Linked DNA regions of Homo sapiens. The protein of the gene in region 2 binds, or shares a complex with, the protein of the main gene of each other region. Each region holds a gene or a part of one and is shown on either strand. Other genes may lie near its edges. The genes, in order: CALCRL and ADM2. A codon is read from its position in the direction of its gene.

Evidence for each region.
Region 1: the proteins of ADM2 (region 2) and CALCRL are in contact, whole or in part, in a cryo-EM structure (PDB 6UVA), measured with the Homo sapiens proteins. Residues at the interface, in NP_001240774.1 of Homo sapiens: Leu106 (codon at 336), Arg107 (codon at 333), Val108 (codon at 330), Gly109 (codon at 327), Cys110 (codon at 324), Val111 (codon at 321), Leu112 (codon at 318), Gly113 (codon at 315), Thr114 (codon at 312), Cys115 (codon at 309), Gln116 (codon at 306), Val117 (codon at 303), Gln118 (codon at 300), Asn119 (codon at 297), Leu120 (codon at 294), Ser121 (codon at 291), His122 (codon at 288), Arg123 (codon at 285), Leu124 (codon at 282), Trp125 (codon at 279), Gln126 (codon at 276), Leu127 (codon at 273), Met128 (codon at 270), Gly129 (codon at 267), Pro130 (codon at 264), Ala131 (codon at 261), Gly132 (codon at 258), Arg133 (codon at 255), Gln134 (codon at 252), Asp135 (codon at 249); in NP_001258680.1 of Homo sapiens: Val36, Thr37, Lys40, Asp70, Gly71, Trp72, Asp90, Tyr91, Phe92, Gln93, Asp94, Phe95, Asp96, Pro97, Ser98, His114, Ala116, Ser117, Thr120, Trp121, Thr122, Tyr124, Thr125, Asn128, Thr131, Lys134, Val135, Ala138, Leu139, Leu141.

Annotation. Positions count from the first base shown.
Region 1 is NC_000002.12:187,441,376-187,445,293, forward strand, and holds part of CALCRL (calcitonin gene-related peptide type 1 receptor precursor), read right to left. Parts: intron 1-3,918. UniProt on the Homo sapiens protein: G protein-coupled receptor which specificity is determined by its interaction with receptor-activity-modifying proteins (RAMPs). Together with RAMP1, form the receptor complex for calcitonin-gene-related peptides CALCA/CGRP1 and CALCB/CGRP2.
Region 2 is NC_000022.11:50,479,190-50,483,107, reverse strand, and holds the start of ADM2 (protein ADM2 preproprotein), read right to left. Parts: upstream 1,566-3,918; 5' UTR 1,345-1,565; exon of another isoform or gene 1,272-1,344; 5' UTR 1,261-1,271; coding exon 1,151-1,260; intron 542-1,150; coding exon 205-541; 3' UTR 1-204. UniProt on the Homo sapiens protein: Intermedin/ADM2 is a peptide hormone that plays a role as physiological regulator of gastrointestinal and cardiovascular bioactivities mediated by the CALCRL-RAMPs receptor complexes.

The DNA.
Region 1 (3,918 bases), on a different chromosome or scaffold from region 2:
GTCTTGATCTTGTGACAAGATGAAAAATAGAGTGGCAGCCAGTATGGATTAAGACTATACACTTTGATTGGAATTGTCTTTACATAACATGGAAGTGGTGGTGTTGTTGTCCAGAGCAGGAGACCTGTCTTGTTGGCCTTCGACACCTAGCATAGGGCCAGGCACCTCATAAGTACCTCTTATGAGGTACTTCTATGGACCATATTGTTTAATCCTAGTATCCCCTAAAGGAAATAAATGTATAGTCATATGAGTTAAAATATAAATATTCTTTGACAGAAATAAACTCTGGGATGAAAAATCAGTCTGCTTCCTTCCCCCAAATGAAATATACTGCAATATTACCAGATTTTAATTTGTTTAGAAAAAGAGCAATTTTAGCATACAGGAAAATATGCTACTCTTGACCACTTGAGGCCAGAATGCAGCTATTGGGCCTATGGTTTGGAAAAAAGTGAACGTTAGACAGGCTAAGTGAGAAAACTTAGTGGAAGGAGAGGGATACCAAAAGACAGATGGAAAATTACCAACTGCAGATTGTACTTACTGTATAGTTTTTCCTAACGCCCTGCAACTCATGCTGTCTGTCTGCTGGGAAAACTCTTGGCCATTTGTTTCTGATGTCCATGTCTGTCTTTTGAATTCTGTTCCTTACTCCTTGATCTATAAAAGTATCTGAGGTGGCTTAAAAACATTATATATATATATATATATATATATATATATATATACATACACACACATATACATATACATACATACACACACACATACATACACACACATATATACGCACACATATATGTGTGTATATATGTATACATATACGTATATATATATTTTACCTTATTTTATAAGAGTAACTGTCACGTGAATTACCTGCAACATGGGTGTTTAAACTGAGAGTTGAAGAACTCTTAACATAGCTAACAAAAAGGAGATCCTATGAAACTCATGCAACTGTAAGCAAAATGAGAATCCCTTTGAATGTATTTTTTTTTAATTTATGGAAAAAAAGGTTTTGGTTTCATTACATTCTCAATGTGGGTCTTAATTTATAAAATATTCAATGATAAATTCTTAAAATGAATTATGTTAAGCCAAAACCTAAATTTTTTTTGCCATCCTATTGCACAGGCACTCTTTCTTTGTATTTTTGAAATATAATAAATAAGAAAATATAAGTGTCTTCCATTAGGTGGCAGTAATAAGTTCCTATAATAAGAACTTTAAAAAAAATGGTCAAAAACAACTTGGAATCCTAAAAGCTGAATTTATTGGATCCTTCTTAATGTTCTCATTTTGAGATTGTGGAGCTGCTATAGTAATCAAAACTAAAATTTTCCGACAGATGTCTACATTTATCTCTACTGTAGTATAGTCACACAAGTAGCAAACAAATTTGTGTAAATAAATTTACTTTTATTATCTTGTGTTAGAAGAGATTCAGTTTGGATTTGGTGAATCATATCACTATTCAACTTTGCACAACTTCAGTAATGAGAGGTCTAATAATAGATAATACACAATAGTATAATGAAATATTTAGGATGTAGATTCATAATATATGTAGGATAAAACCAGAGTTTTGTCAACGAGGATTGTGCAACTTTGGGTTTCACTGAGTTTCACATGTAAAGAAACGCAATAATTTTTGTTTAATATACCTTTTTAAATTGTTAATATGCAGGTATTTTAAAGTGCTCAAGTTCTATGGAGATAGTAATTATCAATATCAATTTTATTAGGTTCTGGCATGTATTGTATAATGGCAAAAGGATGGTCACTGTAACAACTGTAATTATAAATCACACTTGTTCACTCTTCCTGTCTTACAGATAGATTGCATTCTGTTTATCCGTATGGGTGTTGATTGTTTGGAATAAAATTTTGCATAGAAACAAATTATGTCCTCAGTCTCATTCACAACAGACTTAAGGTGAACATGAAAATTTATTGAATATGTACTAAATGCCAAGTGCTAAAAAATTTCCACGTGTTAATTCATGGATTACTTACAAAACCTTATAAAGCAATATGATTATCACTTCCACTTTATGGATGAGAAAGGGGAACTAATAAGTGGTAAATTTTGGGTTCTTATGTGGATGATCTAAATCCAAAGCGCATCACAGTGTACTTCTATAAATACCATATACCTAAATTTCTAAAATAAATGCATATTTTTTCTTAATTTATAAAGTACATTGGTATATTTGTAGAAAAGACAGAAACAAATACATCATTAAAAGTAAAATTTTAAAGACATATGCACATTGACTAATAAAACAATAAACATGTTACTCTAATATTGTTTCCATTACTAAGTACAAAATAAAAATCACAGTTTTGTATTGATGACATTCTTTTCCCATGGTTTTAACTCTCTTTGTCTATTATAATGTTATTTATTGCTCTCTGATACTTACCAAAGTTTCTATTTTTCCTTCAAATTATCCTTGGAAGAAAGGCAAAATTGAGGTGCATATGCAAAATATCTGTGTAATCATTGGTCTCAGTTTAATTAGTGAATGCGGGTTCAAATTAACACTCATTTGTAAAATTTATGAATTTGGTAGTTGGATACAAGAAAAATTTATCTTCATTTTGGTTAATAAAACCAAACCTGTGTGCTCACGAATATGCTATTGATCCTCCATGTGACTGCACTGTAAGGAGATGGGCACTTATAAACCATCTAGTTGCTATGTAAGTAAATCATTGCAATTTAACATACCAAATGATATGCTCAAAATTCACCATAATTTCATGAGAAACATAAATGAGCTTAGGTTAGCCTAAGCCTGAATAGAGAAATAACTACAGTTTTATACAAAAGTTTATGTCATATTAACACTTTTTAATTCAAAAAGATATGTTCCATGTTAAGGGAAATAAGATTTGTCTGAAAATTGGGCTCCATCCAGCAGTGTTAATAAAATATAAAACTATAGCCCCAATACCATAGGGGTTATTTATGTATTCATTTTGGCTTATGCTAGATTGAACTGGGTTGGGATTTTTGTCTTTTTAATTTTTAGTAATGGAAAAGGTGTATAACACATTTAATTTAAACCATGAAAACATTAAAAAATAAAACTTGCTTAACATTTCAAAAGTAAATACACTATTTGGGCCATTTTTGCAAACAATAATATTTTGGTGTATTAGTTTTGAATAATACTGTCTCTTAAGTAAACAAACTAATTGAAGAAAAAAATGGAAGAAATGTGTTTTAGGAAAATATTTGCAACTTATTACCTGATAATAATTCTAGTAACCTAGGAAACATAGACCCTAACTCAGTTCACAGGCAGTGATACTATTTTATATTTTTGTAAGAAGAAGTAAGACCTTATTATGTCCTTAAAAATTGAATACATTTCTTCTCTTTTTTGTAATATAGCTTATTATAATTAAATTAATTTGATTTTAAGATTATTCAAATAAGGAAAAATGCAGAGATTAATTGACCTAATCTAATTTACATGGTCCATGTGAATATATGGGAAAAGGATAGATCCATCTGGTTAGAATGTAGACTTGTATTTCTGGTAAGTTTTTATTTTCCACCTATTTGCATCATAATATTTTTGTATATTAAACGAGAAGATGTCTTGAAATAATTTGTAATCCAGTATGGTACATGTACTTTGTCAGAAAAATAGAACATACCTGAGAAATTATGAATGTTTATAGTTTACCCATGGATTTGAAAACCAGATACAGATAAATGTTTTAAATAGCTGTGTACCATTTGTCTATCTTAAGCGTATTCTCCAATATTCTGATTAAGTCAAAACTAAGATACGTTACACACTTGACTCTCATAAGAGCGTCTTTCATTAACACCCTTGCAATGATAGCGCTTGTGTTTATGGTTTAATAGCTTCTCTGAATGCCAAGCATAAGATACGC
Region 2 (3,918 bases):
TCAGGGTGTTTAGGCTCCTTGACGTACCAGCACTGCGTGTAGACCAGCCTAGGTTTACGTGTGCAAAGCCGTGCAGGTATTGTTGCTGCAGGACCTGCTGTCTGCAGCTCCGAGGGACTGGGCTTCAGATGGGGCTCAGCTGCAGCTCTGGACGGGGGCACAGCACCCTGGCTGGGATGGGCAGGGGTGTGGCCCGGCCCCACCTCAGCCATAGCTGTGGGGGCTGCTGGGGTCCACAGGAGCTGAGTCCTGCCGGCCGGCCGGTCCCATGAGTTGCCACAGGCGGTGGCTGAGATTCTGCACCTGGCAGGTGCCCAGCACACAGCCCACTCGCAGGAGCTGGGCTTGGGTCCTGCGGGGGCCCGAGTGTCTTCGGGGGCCCGAGTGTTGGCGGCCACCATCCCGGAGAGGCTGACCCATAACAGGGGCCAGGCCGGCACCCCTCTGTGCCTGGAGGGCCCGGTGAAGCTTCCAGACCACAGGTCGGGGTGCGGGGTGCCTGGGCTGCAGGCTGCTGGAAGGGCTCCGGGCTGGGGGCTCCCTGCAGAGGCAGATGGAGAATGTCAACCAGATGGCTCAGCCTTTTGGAGAACTCACACCTGCCCACTTTTGCCTCTACACAGGCCTGGGTCACTGCCAGGGGAAGCCCACAGCCCCCATCCACACACAGCCTGGAGCACGGCCAGGGGAAGCCCGCGTCCCCTCTGGGCTTGGGCCTGGGACCATCTCAGTGGCCCGGGTCACGTGTCCCGGGAACCGGCACCTCCTTGGCCAAAGGGCACCCCGGCGGCCCAGCCTCTGCGGGTCACCACTCTCAGGGCTCAGGGTGACTCGGCTTCTGCCCTCCCTTTAGGGTGGTCACAGGCCGGCCAGGGATACCGCCAGCCTCCCCTCCCCCAGCAGACACCCCCAGAAGAGGGGCTGCTGTGCCCATGTGTGTGGGGAGGAGCAACTGCCCTGTGTAGGGAGGCAGAGAAAGAGGGGCCTCTGGCCCTGCTCAGGCGCTCCTGAGCCTGGGGTAGGGGCCTTTGTTTGGGAGGGGAGTCCTAGCAGCAGGTGGAGGCGTGGAGGGAGGGCGGCCCCGCGGCCCCCGGCACTCTGCTTCCCTGCGGGGGCCAGAGGGGTTGGCTGGCCCAAGACCTGGACTCACCTGGGTTTGACGGGTCGCGGGTCCCCGCCCAGGCTGCGGGACAGCGAGCCAGGGAGCTGCAGGCAGAGGAGGCTGATGCAACCCAGGGCGGCCGTCGGGATCCGGGCCATGGCGGGCGGGGCTGCAGGGGAGGGGGCGGTGAGCCGGGCACGTCGGGGGCAGCCTGAGCCGCGAGCCACCCCCTCCGCCGGCACCTCGGGGAGTCCTCCGCGGTCGGGGCGCCGGGCGTGGGCGTGGCAAGCTGGGCACGGGCGTCCGTCGGGGCGCAGGCCTCGGGCGCGAAGCGGGCAGCGGGTCTGGGGTCGGCCGCGGGTCCGGGGCGCAAGGCGGAGCGGGCTGGGCGGGTTGGGGGTCCTGCCTGGAGCGGAGTCGCGGCCCGGGATGGCACCTCCAGGGCTGAATACGTAGCCTTTCCAGCAAGGGGCGGAGCCGGATGCACGGACGGGGCGGGGCGCCCCTCCTCCGGGCCCAGCCACCCTCGGGGCGGGGAGGGGGCTGCGGCGAAGGGAGCGGTGGAGGGGCCTGTCCCCGCTGGGAGCGCTCGGCGACCGGCCCGGGACCGCGGGACCGCCAGCCTCACTCCAAGCGCCTTCTGGTGGGGACGCAGCCCCGAGCCTGCGGGGGCCGGACTTCCCCACGCTGCAGCGGGGTTCTGGGGGGCGAACCGTCGTCCGAGCTGATCCCACGGCTGGGGCGGACTCGGACCCGACGGGGCCCACCCCGTCAACCACCTCCCGAGTCCGGGCGGTCCCACCCTCCAGGGTCTGACCCGGTGGACCCCGGCCCCCCAGCCTGACCAGCAAGTCCGCGGGATTCCGCAGCGGGCTGGCCATTCCGCTCTCCTCTGACGCGGTGCCGCCGACCCCGGGGCTGCGCTCCTAAAAGGCTGTACCGACCCTCGGCCGCTCCAACCCCGGACCAAAGTATTGCACGGTTTTTGTAACAGATTTAAAGTGTCCGGGCGCGGTGGCTCACGCCTGTAATCCCAGCAGTTTGGGAAGCCGAGGCGGGCGGATCACGAGGTCAGGAGATCGAGACCATCCTGGCTAACAAGGTGAAAGGCCGTCTCTACTAAAAATACAAAAAATTAGCCGGGCGTGGTGGCGGGTGCCTGTAATCTCAGCTACTCGGGAGGCTGAGGCAGGAAAGGCTGAGGCTTGAATCCAGGCGGCGGAGGTTGCAGTGAGCCGACATCGCGGCATTGCACTCCAGCTTGGGCGACAGAGCGAGACTCCGTCTCAAAAAAAGAAAAAAAAAAAAGAAAAAGAAAAATTTAAAACGAGTGAAACGTGAGACTCCCCTCACCATTGCCACCCACTTGGGACCCCTACCCTGGTCTGGGGGGGAGCCCTCTCCTGACTTGCCCTGGGCACACCTAGGTGTGGCTATGTGAGGCACACACATCCATGTGTGCAGATTTGCAGTAGGACTGAGACCCCGTTCTTTCCTGAGAGCTTGTTTGGAGGTCCTGGCAGAGGAGCGCAGCTACTCGAAGCCCGGTCCTCCATCCTCTTCGATGGAGCGTGCAGCTTCGGAGGGACGCACAGGGAACAGTGGGGAAGGAGGGGGACACCTGCCTCTGAGCCAGCCACATCAGCCGAATCAACACTGGTGACCAGTGGGGTGACAGGCGTCACAGCCCGACCGTCCTCACATCAGAGACCCCACTCTTTCCTATGGTTGGATCTACTCCAACATATAGGTGTTGTATGATTCATCTCATCTGCTATTAATATGAAATTAGGTGACTGCCAGTCTTTTCATGAGTTGCTGCCTTGAGCTCACAGATGTGTCTATAGGACACCTTCCTGGAAGTAGAAATTCTGGTTGAAGGTGAGCATGTGTTTATGTTGATAGATGGTTCACTGTTCTCCACAGAGCTTTCGCCTACCCACTGTCCACGAGTCCTGGACTTGGTGTCACGGGTTCCAAGCTGCTGAGACTGGCCTCTCTGTTGGGTGAGCTGAGGATCTCTGCGTCCGTTCGTGCTTCCCCTTCTGTCTCCCCAACCCCTGCGCTCACCCCGTAACCCTCCTGCTGACACACCATGGGAGCACAGTCAACATTTGCTGGGTGAATAAGTCGAGGAGTGCCGAGCACACACCCCACAGGCCGATCTGGGAGGGCAGGGATGCCTTGCAGGTATTATTTACTTATTTTGACCAGTTGAGGGGGCAGGGAGTGTCACATTTATATGTTTTTTTTTTTTTTGAGATGGAGTCCCACTGTGTCACCCAGGCTGGAGTGCCGTGGCGAAATCTCAGCTCACTGCAAACTCCGCCTCCCAGGTTTAAGCGATTCTCCTGCCTCAGCCTCCTGAGTAGCTGGAATTATAAGTGCCCACCACCACGCCCAGATAATTTTTGTATTTGAGAGAGGGTTTCACCATGTTGGCCAGGATGGTCTCGAATTCCTGACCTTAGGTGATCCACCCACCTTGGCCTCCCAAAGTGCTGTGATTACAGGTGTGAGCCACTGCACCCAGTGTTTTGTTGTTGTTGTTGTTTGTTTGCTTTTTTGAGATGGAGTCTCACTCTGTCGCCCAGGCTGGAGTGCAGTGGCACAATCTTGGCTCACTGCGACCTCCGCCTCCCAGGTTCAAGTAATTCTCCTGCCTCAGCCTCCCAAGTAGCTGGGGTTACAGGCGCCTGCCACCACACCTGGCTAATTTTTGTATTTTTAGTAGAGACGGGGTTTCACCATGCTGGCCAGGCTGATCTTGAAGTCTGGACCTCAAGCAATCCGCCCACCTCTGCCTCCCAAACTGC